Linked DNA regions of Homo sapiens. The protein of the gene in region 1 interacts with the protein of each later gene in a pairwise test. Each region holds a gene or a part of one and is shown in the gene's direction. Other genes may lie near its edges. The genes, in order: UBE2Z, LPL, RNF144B and RNF103.

Region 1 (3,500 bases):
CCTCCTCTCAGAGAGAAAGCTTAATACATAATGTCACATTTCTCTGGCATAGATACCTAGGTTTCTCTGTCACTGAATGCTCTACCCACAGAAGTGCAGTTGCACTTAAACTGATGTTAGAAAGAAATCATATTTCCTAAACCTAATGCTGTTTAAGTGAAACACATAGTTTTCTTACAGTAAATTTCTTACAGTAAAAATTCAGATTTTGTATTGTTGGTGTATCTTTTTTTGTTGTTTTGAATAGATTTCCCTTCATATTTTTTTTTTATGTAGTTAGAAATGTTTTTCCTAGGACATCTCGTCCTCAGTCAAGTACCAGTGTTAATAGCCTAGTACCTGGGGTCCCAGAGTTGATGCCATGTTGAGACCAGTTGAGTTTACTATTCCAAATGACTGAGAGCCAGAATATGACGTAGGGTCTTGCCAGGAGGGCAAGGTGGGAACTATAGACTTAGGCATTGGATTGCCACGTCCCTTTCCTTTTGCTGTTCAAATGCTTAGCAGACCTAAATGCCTAGGAGCCTTTGTGGAAGAAGAAATATAACTGAGTCAGTTCAGGTTTTCCTCCCTTCAGGGGGGGAAATCCTGTTGAAGAATTATGGCTTGAGGGGGAAGAGAATTTAGTGTCGTTTTCAGGACGGCTGATTTTTTTTTTTTTTTTTTTTTTAAACAGTATTGGGGAAAGTTCTGGGACTGGTCTAATGGCTCTGAGTGGACCCTGAGTCTTCCCCATTTTCAGTCATGATGTGCTGCCTGAGCCACATCCTCCACAATAGGTTTGATCCTCTGCAGAGGAAGCAAGCAGATACCCTAGGCATCCATCACACCCCCTAACCCTGCTGTGTTACTGGCACTGGGCTGTGGCCTCCAATCCCTTTCTTCGTCTCCTTTCATCATACTTTCCCTTCGTGCCACATAAATGTAGGGTGGGGTTGCATCATATGCATGTTTGGCCTGGGCAAATCCAAACATATATTCAGTCAAAATCTGTGTCGATTTCTCAAAATTAAAAACGCTAGGGTTATATTTTATAGATAAGCATATTATATTTTTCCACAGTGGTGTTTTATCCATTATATGTAACACTGATCAGGGAGGTCTGCACAAAAAAAAAAAATGCTTTAAGAGAGTTTTAGGGGATACTCAAGAGTGATTTTGACTAGATTCAGTTTTCGCCTTGGGCTCTAACTTTAGAAGTAACCCCTGAGTAAGATGTCATTCCACTGTAATGAGATTTCTTAAAATTCCAAACCTACGTATTAGTATGAGTGAATACAGGATGTTCCTTCTGCATGGTGAGGATATAGAACATGTGTACCAGATTATGGACTCTGCTTCTGGTGTGGGTAGTAGGTGGAGGGTAGCCAGGAGGGCTTGGGGTGGGTCATCACCTCACAATTTTGAGATGGGGTTTTATTTTGCAGATTCATGCATTGATCACAGGCCCATTTGACACTCCTTATGAAGGGGGTTTCTTCCTGTTCGTGTTTCGGTGTCCGCCCGACTATCCCATCCACCCACCTCGGGTCAAACTGATGACAACGGGCAATAACACAGTGAGGTTTAACCCCAACTTCTACCGCAATGGGAAAGTCTGCTTGAGTATTCTAGGGTAAGAGGAGACTTTTAAGTAGCCAAGTCGGTTGTTAGCAGATAATTACTCTAGGTCAGCCTTTATCAACCGGAGTCCCTCATCTGAACTACAGAACACAGAAAATGATTGAGTGACTCTTCTCAAATCTCCTCAGGATGGTATGTGACTAGTATCATTCTAGATGCAGAGGGGAGAAGTTAATTTATTACAGTGGTAACCTTTGAGAAGTGGTTCTCTTAAGAGTGTGGCCCTGAGCATCTGGGAACTTGTAGCCGAGCAGTTTCTGGGGCCCTATCTTAGACCTACAAAAGAAACTCTGGGGTTGGGGCCAAAAATCTGGTTTTTTTGGTTGTTGTTTTTTGTTTGTTTTGAGACGGAGTCTTGCTCTGTCGCCAGGCTGGAGTGCAGTGGCACGATCTTGGCTCACTGCAACCTCTGCCTCCCAGATTCAAGCGATTCTCCTGCCTCAGTCTCCCAAGTAGCTGGGGCTACAGGCGTGCACCACCACACCTAGCTAATTTTTGTATCTTTAGTAGAGACGGAGTTTCACCATGTTGGCCAGGATGGTCTCGATCTCTTGACCTCATCATCCACTCACCTTGGCCTCCCAAAGTGCTGGGATTAGAGGCATGAGCCACCGTGCCCGGCCCAGAAATCTGTTTTTTACAAGCTCTCCAGATGATTGTGGTGCATACTGCAGTTTCAGAACCACTCTCTTGGGGTGTTAAGGCCTTATTTTCTCTCCTGAACAGGTTGAGAAAGGCTGCAGGTCTGTGCCATTCAAGATTTGGGGTGTCTTAATTTGAGTCTTGCAATAAGTTGCTTTGAAGGCAGTGGCGGTGGTGGTGGTGGTGATCATTATGGTTTCATTTTTGTTTTGTTTTGTTTGTTTTTGTTTTGTTTTGTTTTGTTGGTAGAGGCAGGTATCTCACTATGTTGCCCAGGCTGGTCTTGAATTCTTGTCCTCAAGCAGTCGTCCTCTTGTGGCTCCCAAAGCACTGGGGTTACAGGCATGAGCCTCCATGCCTGACCTGATTATAATATTTTAATAATGACAAATGTCTGAGATTGGAAATCACATTAGATATGAAATGAGTTTCTAGTGCATCTTCTTTCTGGATGCTTCTGAGGTTTTGCTTCATAGAGTTCCCATTTTAGTTGCCTTTGGGGGCTGAAAACTCAGTGTGGACATCTTCTCGCATATTTTGGATTGGTGTTTTTATAGTGGTCTGAACTTCTCTGGGACAGAGAACACGTGCAGGTTGAAGTTGAGAAAGTACCCCCAAACTGATTATTCTGTTTTCCTGCTATCCAACATGTTTCCAGGTTTGTGTGAGGGAAGAGCAGCATTTGAAATAAACTTAGAGACATGATTCATTTTTCTAGGACTTGCTCAGACCCAGGGATATGTTCTGCTGTGATTTTGGCAGTGAAGAAGTCTTTTAAAGGAGGTTGTCCTTAAAGAAGTACTTCATCTCGTTAGGGTACTTAATTAATTGTCTTTGCTGGTAGGCTAAAACCCATGATGATAAAGAAATTTAGTCGTTGCTTCTGTATGAAATTTGTTCGCGAAAGCGTGTCTCAAAGTAGGCTCTCCCTCATTGGGTCAATATAAAACTCTTTTGAGATACCAGCCACAGGACAGTGGGGTAAAAGTAGTAGAAGTGTGTTAGGTAGAAAAGGAGAAGCTGCCCTGAAATTGAAAATTTGCCATAAAGAATCACAGAGTAGAAAATTTCAGCCGGGTGCGGTGGCTCACACCTGTAATCCCAGCACTTTGGGAGGCCGAGGCGGGTGGATCACCTGAGGTCAGGAGTTCGAGACCAGCCTAGCCTGGCGAAACCCCGTCTCTACTAAAAATACAAAAATTAGCCAGGCATGGTGGCGCATGCCTCTAGTCCCA
Region 2 (3,889 bases), on another chromosome or scaffold:
AATAAGGAAACCAAGGAGTCCTATTTCATCATGCTCACTGCATCACATGTACTGATTCTGTCCATTGGAACAGAGATGATGACTGGTGTTACTAAACCCTGAGCCCTGGTGTTTCTGTTGATAGGGGGTTGCATTGATCCATTTGTCTGAGGCTTCTAATTCCCATTGTCAGCAAGGTCCCAGTGCTCAGTGTGGGATTTGCAGCCTTGCTCGCTGCCCTCCCCTGTAAATGTGGCCATTAGCATGGGCTAGGCTATCAGCACAGAGCTCAGAGCTCATTTGGAACCATCCACCTCGGGTCAACAAACTATAACCCTTGTGCCAAATCCAGCCTACTTCCTGCTTTTGTAAATAGTTTTTTTAAAACTTTTAAGTTCAGGGGTACGTATGTAGGTTTGCTAAAAAGGTAAACTTGTGACATGGGAGTTTGTTGTCCAGAATATTCCATCACCCAGGTATTAAGCTTAGTACCCATTAGTTACTTTTCCTGAAGCTCTCCCTCCTCCCACCCTCTGGGAGGCCCCAGTGTCTGTTGTTCCCCTCTATGTGCTCATGCAAAGTTTTATTAGGACACAGCCACACACATTCATTACCATATTGTCAAAGGCTGGTTTCATGCCACCATAACAGAGTTGATAGCCCACAGAGCCTAAAATATTTACTCCCTGGCCCTTTACAGAATGTTCACAACTTACATAAAGGCAAGGACCATCTGTCTTATTTATTTATTTATTTAATTTGAGATGAAGTCTAGCTTTCTCCTAGGCTGGAGGAGAGGGGCATGATCTTGGCTCACCACAACCTCTGCCTCCCGGGTTCAAATGATTCCCCTGCCTCAGCCTCCGGAGTAGCTGGGATAACAGGCATGCACCATCATGCCCAGCTAATTTTTGTATTTTTAGTAGAGAGGGGGTTTCACCGTGTTGACCAGGCTGGTCTCGAACTGCTGACCTCAGGTGATCTGCCCTCCTTGGCCTCATCTGTCTTTTTAAATGCAACTATTCCTGGAAGGCAAGAATATCTCACACCTTCTAAGATACTGCCATTTTGCCAGGAGTTTGTTTCACACTTGAATTTCAAGCTTGGCCTCTTGTTTAGAGGCAGACCTAAAGGAATGGTCGGAAAATGAGAGAGGAGGTCTTCGGATAAATCCGGTGAGAGGGACCAACTTCAGGAAGGGTGGCTTTTGTGGAATCCAGATGGAAACCTGAGGGAAGGGATGATATTAAAGAACAGTGGCCCCAGGTAAAACATATGGCACCCATGTGTAAGGTGATTCTTAGAATCTGTAGAGGTGTCTTTCGTGGTATAGAGGTTGAGGCACCTGTGCTTCAAGGAAACCTTAACTCTTCAAAATCAGGCAATGCGTATGAGGTAAAGAGAGGACTGTGGGACCATAATCTTGAAGACACAGACAGGCTTCACTCATCCCTGCCTCCTGCACCAGTGGGTTCAAGGCTCTGTCAGTGTCCCCTAGGGGCACCTCACCACTCCCAGCTTCTTCAGCTCTGGCCTGTCCTGCTGCCTGCAAGGGTTTTGCTTAATTCTCAATTCAATGTCTCTTCATCTTTTAGCAGCTGTGGGGTTTTGTTGTTGTTCTTCTGTTTTTGCTTAGTATCTGACTACTTTTTAATTATAAAAAGAGATGTATCTAAACAAAATAGAGATTGTTATCAGAAGTTCACAACATTTATTAAAAATTTTTTCACCTGGACAAGAGTCTAAAGCAGCATAAAAATATGGTCTGCTATATTCTAAACCATCAGTCTTAAGAGATCTGTGTCTCAGCTTAAGAGAAAATACATTTAATAGACAGTAACACAAATAAGAAAAAAATCTGACCAAGGATAGTGGGATATAGAAGAAAAAACATTCCAAGAATTATTTTATTTATTTATTTATTTATTTATTTATTTATTTATTTATTTATTTTTGAGACACAGTCTCGCTCAGTTACCCAGGCTGGAGTGCAGCGGCGCAATCTTAGCTCACTGCAACCTCTGCTTTCCGGTTCAAGCGATTCTCCTGCCTCAGCCTCCTGAGTAACTGGGATTACAGGCACCCGCCACCACGCCCAACTAATTTCTGTATTTTTCTTAGTAGAAACAGGGTTTCACCATGTTGGCCAAGCTAGTCTCAAACTCCTGACCTCAGGTGATTCACCCACCAAGGCCTCCCAAAGTGCTGGGATTACAGGCATGAGCCACCATGCCTGGCCTCCAAGAACTCTTTTTTCCTCCATCATCATGGTTCTATTTTAGTCCTGCTGCCTTTCCTTTTAACCTCTCCCCAGGCCCATTTGCTCAGGGTTTTTGGTAGAGACCAGAGGAGGGGCAGGGAGGAGATATAGAAGTTCAACTACCTGCTTCCAGAGGCTGTCCCTAGTATAGAATACTTTAGGGGCTGGCTTTACAAGGCAGTCCTTGTGGCCTCACTGATGGCTCAATGAAATAAGTTCTTTTTTAAAAAAAATTTTATTTATTTCCATAGGTTATTGGGGGAACAGGTGGTGTTTGGTTACATGAGTAAGTTCTTTAGTAGTGATTTGTGAGATTTTGGTGTGCCCATTACGGAATGGAAAAATCAACGAAATAAGTTCTATGATGCACCTACTAGACACCTAATCTGCGCTAGATGGTGGGGGAATTAAGAGCATGGGCATGATCCTGTGACCGGAAGCCCGCTTACAGTCAGGGTGGAGGACAGACCTACTCATGAAACAAACACAGTGACATATAGTGACACAGAAGCAAATGTCAAATATGCTTGCTCCAGATGCTAAGGCACAAGATGGCCAAGGATGGCGGAGTTCATGGAGAAAGCATCATGAGTGTTTTGGCCTTCTGATTTGATCTCCCTAGCACCCCTCAAAGATGGCTACTTCCTAATGCTGCTTGGCAATTCAGACACATTTGGGTTTTTCCTATGCATATAACCACACTTTTCTGAAAGGGAGTAGAATTCAAGGTCTGCATTTTCTAGGTATGAACACTGTGCATGATGAAGTCTTTCCAAGCCACACCAGTGGTTCCATGTGTGTGCACTTCCGGTTTGAGTGCTAGTGAGATACTTCTGTGGTTCTGAATTGCCTGACTATTTGGGGTTGTGATATTTTCATAAAGATTGATCAACATGTTCGAATTTCCTCCCCAACAGTCTTCCATTACCAAGTAAAGATTCATTTTTCTGGGACTGAGAGTGAAACCCATACCAATCAGGCCTTTGAGATTTCTCTGTATGGCACCGTGGCCGAGAGTGAGAACATCCCATTCACTCTGTGAGTAGCACAGGGGGGCGGTCATCATGGCACCAGTCCCTCTCCTGCCATAACCCTTGGTCTGAGCAGCAGAAGCAGAGAGCGATGCCTAGAAAACAAGTCTTTAGTTAAAAAAATCAGAATTTCAAAATTGAGGTCTTTCCTCTATTTGATATTGAGAAAAAAATGCTTCAAATTGGCCATTTTATTTTCACTTACTAGTTATATTTTTTTATTTATCATCTTATATCTGTTTATTTCTTTTATAAAGCTGCTGTTAAACAATATAATTAAACTATCTCAAAAGGTTTGACATTAAAGAAAATGAGCAATGGTAACAGGAAACCACTCTATAGATGTACATATAATATGTACAGAAAATATAAGTAGTAAGAAGTCCATGACAAAGTGTTAGCTCTTTTTTTTTTTTTTTTTTTTTTTTTTTTTGAGATGGAGTCTCTCTCTATTGCCCAGGCTGGAGTGCAGTGATTCGATCTCAGCTCACTGCAACCTCTACCTCCCGAGTTCAAACAATTCTTCTGTCTCAGCCTCCCGAGTAGCTGGGGCTGCAGGTGCCCACCACCATGCCCAGCTAATTTTTGTATTTTTAGTAGCGACAGGGTCTCACCATGT
Region 3 (3,889 bases), on another chromosome or scaffold:
CGATGTTTGTCACCTCGATCATCTTAATTTTCTTGGTAGTGTTACCTTGACCATTTGACCATTAAGAGGTATATGACACCTAAGTTAATTTATGTAAATATTTTAATTCATAATTTTTACCTTTAGGTGTATGTGGGAGGTCTTGGACTAAAGTTTTAGTTTTATTAACTTTGGCATTTGCTATTTACCCAGTCGGTGAGTACTTTGGAACCTAATGCATCATACCATAGTTGTTATTAAAAAATGGATAACTATATATTAAATGAGTAAAAATGACCAATGCTTCTGCAACGTGGAATGAGGATCTTCTCATCTATGAGCAGATCTCTTTCTTGAATTCAAAACACAGCAATCTAAGTGAAATAGACTTTTCTTATTCATAGCTGGAGATACTTCTGATCACATGGCTTGGAGTATTTATTAAGAGCATACTTTGAAAGCCATGTCCCATTGTTTTCTAAATCTTTTGAAGTCACGAGTTTGAGTCCCAGCCCTTCATCAACTTGTTCTTTGTTTTTCTTGGGAAGATAAAACAAGACAACTCGTTTCTGTCTGTTGAACTTGTGGCTGAAACCATAAACCCACACATTCTCCTGCATATGATTATATGAAATCCTCTGTTGAAAACCTCCTCAACTAGTTGACTCTTAATAAGTAGGAGCTGGGTTTAATCACCTTTACATCCCTAGCACCTAATGTGTAGAATTTGTTCTTTGTGTGTTGACTTTGTTTCCTTCATGATAAATTCCTGTTATAGGAAATTAATTGGCAAAGACATACAAAAATCTACACCTGCACTTTGCTCAGGTGGGGTGAAGATTCCTCTTCCAAACTGGTTTCCAATTTGTTTCTAATTAAAATTTCTATATGAAACTTTTAACTTTAACAGGAGGGGGTAATATTGGCACATGCTTTTATTCATTTGAAAAAAAATTTTTGATTTAGATATTCGTGCTTTAGCGGCTCTGGTTTTCTGGTAATGTCCTGACCCAAGAAATCAGCCTGGCTCTTGCTCTATAAGGCTCTTTGAAATACCACTTCTCCTTGATTGGTCAATTACATCATTGTCTGACCTGCCTTTAAGTGGCGTTCCTTCCTGCTTCTGAGCTTTGTTGTTATGCCAGGCATAGGGAAGAAAATTATTTAGCAGGGCTGTGTGAATAATTGTGGGAGGCAGGGAACCACTGATTAAAACAGGAGTGGGCAAGGCACAGTGGTGATATTGAAGAGGTAGCTACCATGATGAATGCAAAATTGCCATGCCAAAAATATCATTGAGCTGTTATTCTCATATTCACTCCCACCTTCTTTGATAAGTTTATATTGTTTGGAAAACTGGGAATGGATTTCTACCTCTTGGGCCTTACCCTGTAGGGTAATGAGAACATGGAAAGAAGGCAAGAAGAAATGTGCTTTTAAGAAAAAGCCAGTTGCGGTGGCTCATGCCTGTAATCCCAGCACTTTGGGAGGCTGAGGTGGGCTGATCACGAGGTCAGGAGATCGAGACCATCCTGGCAAACACGGTGAAACCACATCTCTACTAAAAATACAAAAAAATTAGCCAAGCGTGGTGGTGGGCGCCTGTAGTCCCAGCTACTCGGGAGGCTGAGGCAGGAGGATGGCGTGAACCCAGGAGGCGGAGCTTGCAGTGAGCCGAGATCGGGCCACTGCACTCCAGCCTGGGGGACAGAGCCAGACTCCATCTCAAAAAAAAAGGAGCAGCAGTTTGCAAATGTTAAAACTAGATGTGCCAAGGGCCAGGCGCGGTGACTTACGCCTGTAATCCCAGCACTTTGGGAGGCCGACGCGGGAGGATCACGGAGGTCAGGAGATCGAGACCATCCTGGCTAACATGGTGAAACCCCATCTCTACTAAAAAAAAAAAAAAAAAAAAAAAAAAATTAGGTGTGGTGGCAGGTGCCTGTAGTCCCAGCTACTTGGGAGGCTGAGGCAGGAGAATGGCGTGAACCCAGGAGGCAGAGCTTGCAGCAAGCTGAGATAGCACCACTGCACTGCAGCCTGGGCGACAGAGCGAGACTCCGTCTCAAAAAAAAAACGATGTGCCAGATGTTCTGTCCTCTGTAGGATTTGGAGTTAGCTTATCACAACGTCATGTACATTGTTGGCCATGCTTGGACATCAGCACCAATATATATTTTGTAAGAAAAAATATTAGATCTCACTAAATTAGTTGTAACAGACTTTATTCATAACCTAATTTCAAGCAGCAAAGAGATTGTTTGGAAAACAGTTCTTGCTAATACTTTAAGATGCTTCTCCTTCCTGATGAAGTGCCTACTTTTTTTTTTTAACCCACAAAAAGGTTAATAGGGCTATATTTGCATATCAGTTCCATTTTTAGAAGGTTAATAGTCTCCAAGTTACAAAGTTGTGATCTCATTGCCATCCTAGAAACTGTTGAAATGACGATGTTAAAACTAAGAAATTATAGACTAAATAAAGTGCTTTTTGAGCACTTTAAGCCATGAAACAGTGGCGAGAAAACAGAAGTCCTCTTCTCTACCACAGGAGGCACAGTGATACAATACTGCCACCTCACAGAGCCTGAATAGGTGAATATTTACTTTCTTACATCTAAGACCTAAATATTTCCTGGGTTTGTTTATGCTAGAGGATATTTTCTAATCTATTTCATTTTTTCAAATAATGACAACTTATGTGTAATATCATGTATGTACTCATTGAGTTTGAGCATTATTCTTTTAAAAAGGGCAGATCATGAGGTCAGGAGATCAAGACCATCCTGGCTAACATGGTGAAACCCCGTCTCTACTAAAAAATACAAAAAATTAGCTGGGCGTGATGGCGGGCACCTGTAGTCCCAGCTACTAGGGAGCCTGAGGCAGGAGAATGGTGTGAACCCAGGAGGCAGAGCTTGCAGCGAGCCGAGATCGCGCCACTGCACTCCAGCCTGGAGACAGAGTGAGACTCCATCTCAAAAAAAAAAAAAAAAAGTAATTAATAGATATACAGTTTATTTAAGTAATTGCAGTTCCCTGACTACGAGAGGGGCAGCCTATGTTTCCATTTGTTCATGTCCTCTTAGGTTAGGGCATGCATTAGAACTGTTTTTCTGATTGAAAGAATGTACGCTGGTTCATCTTGTCCTTGAATGACCAGAGAGCTGGTTGGAGATGCAAGCGGAGAGTAGAGCTACAACACTGGCCACAAAGGAGGTCTACCATAAGCCCTTGCTTCCTTCATTGCTGTTGCTACTGCTACCAGCCAGCAGGTCACCCTGCCATTGTATTTGGATTGTATTTAGGGTAGAACTTCAGCTAATGGCTGATAATGCTCAGCACTTTACTAGACTCAATTAGTACCATTGGGTTCACTAATAGTTTCTGTTAGGAAAAGGAACCAGTAGCTAACCAAACTACTCTATTGGGCAGAAGTACCAAGATCAACATAATGCTGATTTTCAGATTGCATTGAGTGGAAACTGGTTGCCTGGTGTGTTCTTAGCTGATATGGGGATAGCTTTCCTAACAAGGCAAGGATGGGACCTTTAGATTGCTGCTCTTTTTTTCTGCTTTATTAGAATATTAGCTTCCCGAGAATATGTCTCCATTTTACAAGGCAACACTTCAGCCTTTCTTCATCACCACCCACCCTTCTCAAAAACTTTCCCCTTTGCTACCTCCCTCCCATATTTATGCATTCATATCTGTTATTCTAGCTACTTCACAGTGATGACTCGATGTCTCACAAAGGCATATAAACACATTGAGAGTATACATATGTCTCCTCTTCTGTTTGTCCCCTGTACTTGAGTAACTCTTAGAATTTCATAGCATAGCTTGGAATTAAGACCTCAGTGCAGATCAACTGGATTTTTATTTACATTAATATCCTGTGGCATCAGTAA
Region 4 (4,535 bases), on another chromosome or scaffold:
CCCTTGTTCACTTTATTTTAAATGGGCACCATTCGGAGGCTACATTCTCACAGTCCATTCTTTGCTTCCCGTTCCTCCCTTGCTCCATGACCTGGGATCATGATCCCTTTCTTCCTAAAACTTTCACCCCTAGTTTCAGATAGTTGACAGTTTTGCACAAATAGTAACATTTCCCCGTAATTACTGTTTTTTTTTTCCTTCCTTATCAAAAGGGGCTGGTCAAAGCCAACCTTGTTCAGTTTATGAACCCAACTCCTTCCTCCCTCAAGACTGACACAGAGATTGACGTAAAGAGTACGCTCGGCCCGGTTAAATTTATAAGCACAGAACCAGGTATCGCATGCTTGTCCATGTGACTCTTTTTTTTCTTTTCTTTCTTTCTTTTTTTTTTTTTTTTTTTTTTTTTTTTTTTGAGACGGAGTCTTGCTATGTCACCCAGGCTGGATGGAGTGCAGTGGCGCGATCTCAGCTCCCTACAAGCTCCGCCTCCCGGGTTCACGCCATTCTCCTGCCTTAGCCTCCCGAGTAGCTGGGACTACAGGGGCCCACCACCACGCCGGCCTAATTTTTTGTATTTTTAATAGAGGCAGGGTTTCACCGTGTTAACCAGGATGGTCTCGAACTCCTGACCTCGTGATCTGCCCGCCTCGGCCTCCCAAAGTGCTGGGATTACAGGCGTGAGCCACTGTGCCAGGCCCATGTACAAAATAAAGCACCCGGAACTTTGCACCTGGACTTATCTACACTCGACAATCTTTGTCCTAGGAACTCAGGGAGTCCACACCAGGCTTTTAACACCCTTGAGACTGAAGGAGGGAAAAGGCTGTAACTGGCAGCGACAACTGGGCCTAGTATAACGCGAACTCCAGTTTTGGCCAAACCTCCTCCAACACACATGTGCAAAGCCACATTCTCATGAAGAGGGGGCAAAACATTTGCTTTCTGGGTTTAACCTTCTACCATCTCAAACCAACTGTGCCAAAAATTTCCCTGTTCACCAGGATTCATCAAAAAACGTACATTTCTATTTTCACCGATTTTAAGAGAATAATTAACTGCTCTATTTTTACAAAAAATACACAAAGTGATACAATCTAAAGACTAATCCTCAGACAAAATCAATTGCTAAACATTGGAGGGGCAAAAGGGGAGACCACGCCGCAAAAGCACGGAGAGGCAACTTTCGGCACCGCGGGAAGGCCCCGACCACGCTGCGGCTCCGCCTCTCCTCCCGCCCCTCGTTCGGTAGTCCGGTAGCCCCGCGGCTCCCCGAATTCCCCGCCCTCGGCCCCTGCGGGCGCACCCTGCAGGCCCCGCCCCGGCCCCGCCTCATCGCGACGTCAGTTGTTATGTCTCGGCTCCGGCCGCGGCCGCCGCTGATACACGGTTGTGGAGGGTACGGCCGCGGTCTCCGGAGGTGGCGGGGGTGTTGGGGACGGGTGCTGCGACCGGCACTGCCCATCCGAGCGGGACGGGCGCTGAGTGGCCGGGAGGCAGCCGGGTAGCCGCCTGGAGGAGCAGTCTCGGGGCCTATTATTGGTTTTTTCCCTCCGAGACCGATTCCATCTGCAGAGACCGCGACGCCCCATCCTGGGCCGGGCCGCAGTGCCCGCCCGCCTGAGAGGCGCCGCCCGCCAGCCGGCCCGAGCGAACCTGGAGCCGCCGCCGTGCCCGCCGCTCTTCTCGCGGAGCCTGGGCGGTCGGCGGGGCCTGGGGCCTGGGCTTCGGGCGCGGCGTTGCGGCGGCCGCTCCTCCCCGCGCAGAACACGCTGGGCCCCGGGCCTGGCCCGGCCGAGCGCCGCGCCCTCCTGACCCGCGGCCGCGGGAGTCCGGCCCCCACGGCCCCTCGGGCCCCGGCCTGCCGCCCGGATCCCCGCCTCCTGGGCGGATCTGAGTTATTTTTTGGTCTCCCCCTCCCCCTTGAGATCGCGGCACCGGAGGGCCGACCCCGCCACCTGGGTCAGTGCCCGCCCCGGGGGAAGCGTCCCTCGTTTTGTTCTTCCCCGCGAGCTCTCCCCGCGCCCCTCTCCTTTCTGTGCTTAATGGATGGGGGTTTTGAGTTTTTCCCCTTTATTTTTGTCGGCTCTTGACTGGGAGGCCCGGCGCGAGGCTCTGCGTCTCTGCGTCCCTCGTCGCCGCCTCGCGCCCGCGCGGATCCCGTCACCTGCTTCCCCGCCGGGGATGGCCGGCCAGTGACGGCGCCGGGTGGCCCGCGCGTGGACACGGGGCCCTCGCCCAAGCTGCCACCGAGCCGCGGCCCCCGCCCTCGACCCTTCTCTCTCCCGTATTCCGAGCTCTCTGGAAAGAGAGGAAACTCCAGGGAAGATGTGGCTGAAGCTTTTTTTCTTGCTCCTCTATTTCCTGGTCCTGTTCGTCCTGGCCAGGTTTTTTGAGGCCATTGTGTGGTATGAAACTGGCATCTTTGCCACCCAGCTGGTGGATCCGGTGGCGCTGAGCTTCAAGAAGCTGAAGACCATTTTGGAGTGCCGGGGGTTGGGCTACTCAGGGTTGCCCGAGAAGAAGGATGTCCGGGAGCTGGTGGAAAAGTCAGGCGAGTATCGGGCTTCCCCTAGGGTCCCCTCCACCTGGGAGAGGGGACGACCTGTACCTCCTGGTACCTGGCTGTTCCCCCAGAGTGAGGCCTTTCCTGGAAGCGTTAAAGCTGCCCAGGTTTCTTCGTCCAAGCTTCCTACAATCAAGTATGCGGATCCCAGCTTTGAGGAGGAGTCTGAAATTATTTGGAGGAGTGTTGGTGTATCCTTTTAAGGTTATCGTAAAATGACAGTTTAAAGTGTGGCTTCTTAGCGTTGTTTACTAAGTTGAGTGATTTTCTCAAAATTCTGGAATATCAACTAGTTACAAACTGGAAAGCATTATTTGTCAGTTGAAGTTCATAAAAACGTAAGAAAAACTCCAAAACGTTGTCTGTCAATAGCAATATTTGTCACGATAGTAATAATAAGATACCCAGAGTGGGGACACATCTTTGGAATACTTACTATCAGAGGCACTTGGGCCTAGGATTTAAATGTTAAATCATGAGTTTGAATATAGACAGTATACACCGTACAGTATTAGCTTTTCAGACTTTAAGTTTGGTGAAAATAAGGCGAGCATTTTGTATAAATGCCTGCCATGTTCGAGTTTATATTATATTTCTGTTAGGATTTTTAAAAATTTGCATCTTGGATGTGTAAAAGAAAAATTTTTTTTGTCTTCTGTGTCACAGGTACCCTTGCATTGTTTAATGGGTTGAGAAATATACGTGAAATAGTGCTGAGAGAATATTCAATGTCTTAAAGAATGTGTTTTTAGTAATTGTTGGTTTTGGTAGGATTGGGTGAGAAATATGGTTAATTTTTTTCACTGCTGCACAAAGTATATCTTTGGATATACTTCCTGAAAGTGGAATGTAATTTGAGAAAGGCTTTCTGCGTTGCTGTGGGAAGCAGCTGAAACTGATGGTTATCTTTTTTGTTGTTTCAAGTATTTTTGTCAGCTGTATCTTTTACAAGACAAATCTTTTCCTTCTTTAGTACCTTATAGACATGTAGCGTGATAGACAAGAGTATGAGCTCGCTAGCAGTTTAACACTTGGATATTTGTAGGTTGCGGGTTATAAAACTCATATCTCACTATTAGGGTAGAGGAGAGGAACACACTCTGCAGAAGTGATAAATGTTTCTTTAGAGAAAATATAAAATCGTATATTATTCTTGCCCCTTGTTTGCTGACTGGTTTATGGCGATTCTTATTTCTACCATAGGGGGAAGAAGTGGAGTAACTAGGGTAAAAGATCTCTAATAAATAAACTCTCTTGGTTTAGAGATGAGAAGTGTCTCAACTGCCAAAGCCATCATTTTTTTATGGAAAATAATTTGGTCACACATTTTTTTTTCTTTTGACTGTTATTTATTATTGCCTTCTTTTGGGCCTAAAAATACTTGGCACATTGAATGTACTAGAAGTCCACATTTAACTTTAAGACGCACAGCCCAGTATGACTCAAATCACACGTTTTATGGCAGAAAAGTCATGGTATAGCAGTTTAAAATTTAAGTGTTTATTGTGAATGGTTTTGCTGCTATCATGGTGCAGTACTTGGTTTCTCACTGTTTAATATTTAAGGCGAAAGTTAAAATAATTTGATTTTAGTGTTTTCCTTTCCTTTTTGTTTAATGATACAAGCTCTAAATTTATAATATAAATTTGTATATGAATATGGAGTTTGTTCTGTCTAACAGGTAAAGTTCTAACCTCCAAGTCATACAAACCCTGTTGCTCTTTTAAGCAGGGCTGATGGCAAATTCTGTGAACCCAATTCTACATCTTTTAAGTAAGAAGCATATAAGCCATACTGTTTAAAAATGTATATGAAGCCTGTATGTGTCATTCATAAAACTAAATAATTAAGAAAGTTGTGCCTTTTTGGAGTGGTACAAATTTGGTAAGTTCCTAATAATTATGTGATAACCCCACTAAAATATAAGCCCTGTTCTATAAGAGATGGATTTTTGTCTATTTTGTTCACTTTT

Evidence for each region.
Region 2: the proteins of UBE2Z (region 1) and LPL interact in a two-hybrid assay, tested with the Homo sapiens proteins (one large-scale study listed by BioGRID and IntAct).
Region 3: the proteins of UBE2Z (region 1) and RNF144B interact in a two-hybrid assay, tested with the Homo sapiens proteins (one large-scale study listed by BioGRID and IntAct).
Region 4: the proteins of UBE2Z (region 1) and RNF103 interact in a two-hybrid assay, tested with the Homo sapiens proteins (one large-scale study listed by BioGRID and IntAct).

Annotation. Positions count from the first base shown.
Region 1 is NC_000017.11:48,911,407-48,914,906, forward strand, and holds part of UBE2Z (ubiquitin-conjugating enzyme E2 Z), read left to right. Parts: intron 1-1,427; coding exon 1,428-1,615; intron 1,616-3,500. UniProt on the Homo sapiens protein: Catalyzes the covalent attachment of ubiquitin to other proteins. Specific substrate for UBA6, not charged with ubiquitin by UBE1. May be involved in apoptosis regulation.
Region 2 is NC_000008.11:19,956,104-19,959,992, forward strand, and holds part of LPL (lipoprotein lipase precursor), read left to right. Parts: intron 1-3,156; coding exon 3,157-3,277; intron 3,278-3,889. UniProt on the Homo sapiens protein: Key enzyme in triglyceride metabolism.
Region 3 is NC_000006.12:18,390,162-18,394,050, forward strand, and holds part of RNF144B (E3 ubiquitin-protein ligase RNF144B), read left to right. Parts: intron 1-3,889.
Region 4 is NC_000002.12:86,620,677-86,625,211, reverse strand, and holds the start of RNF103 (E3 ubiquitin-protein ligase RNF103), read left to right. Parts: upstream 1-1,346; 5' UTR 1,347-1,349; coding exon of another isoform or gene 1,350-1,396; 5' UTR 1,397-2,325; coding exon 2,326-2,551; intron 2,552-4,535. UniProt on the Homo sapiens protein: Acts as an E2-dependent E3 ubiquitin-protein ligase, probably involved in the ER-associated protein degradation pathway.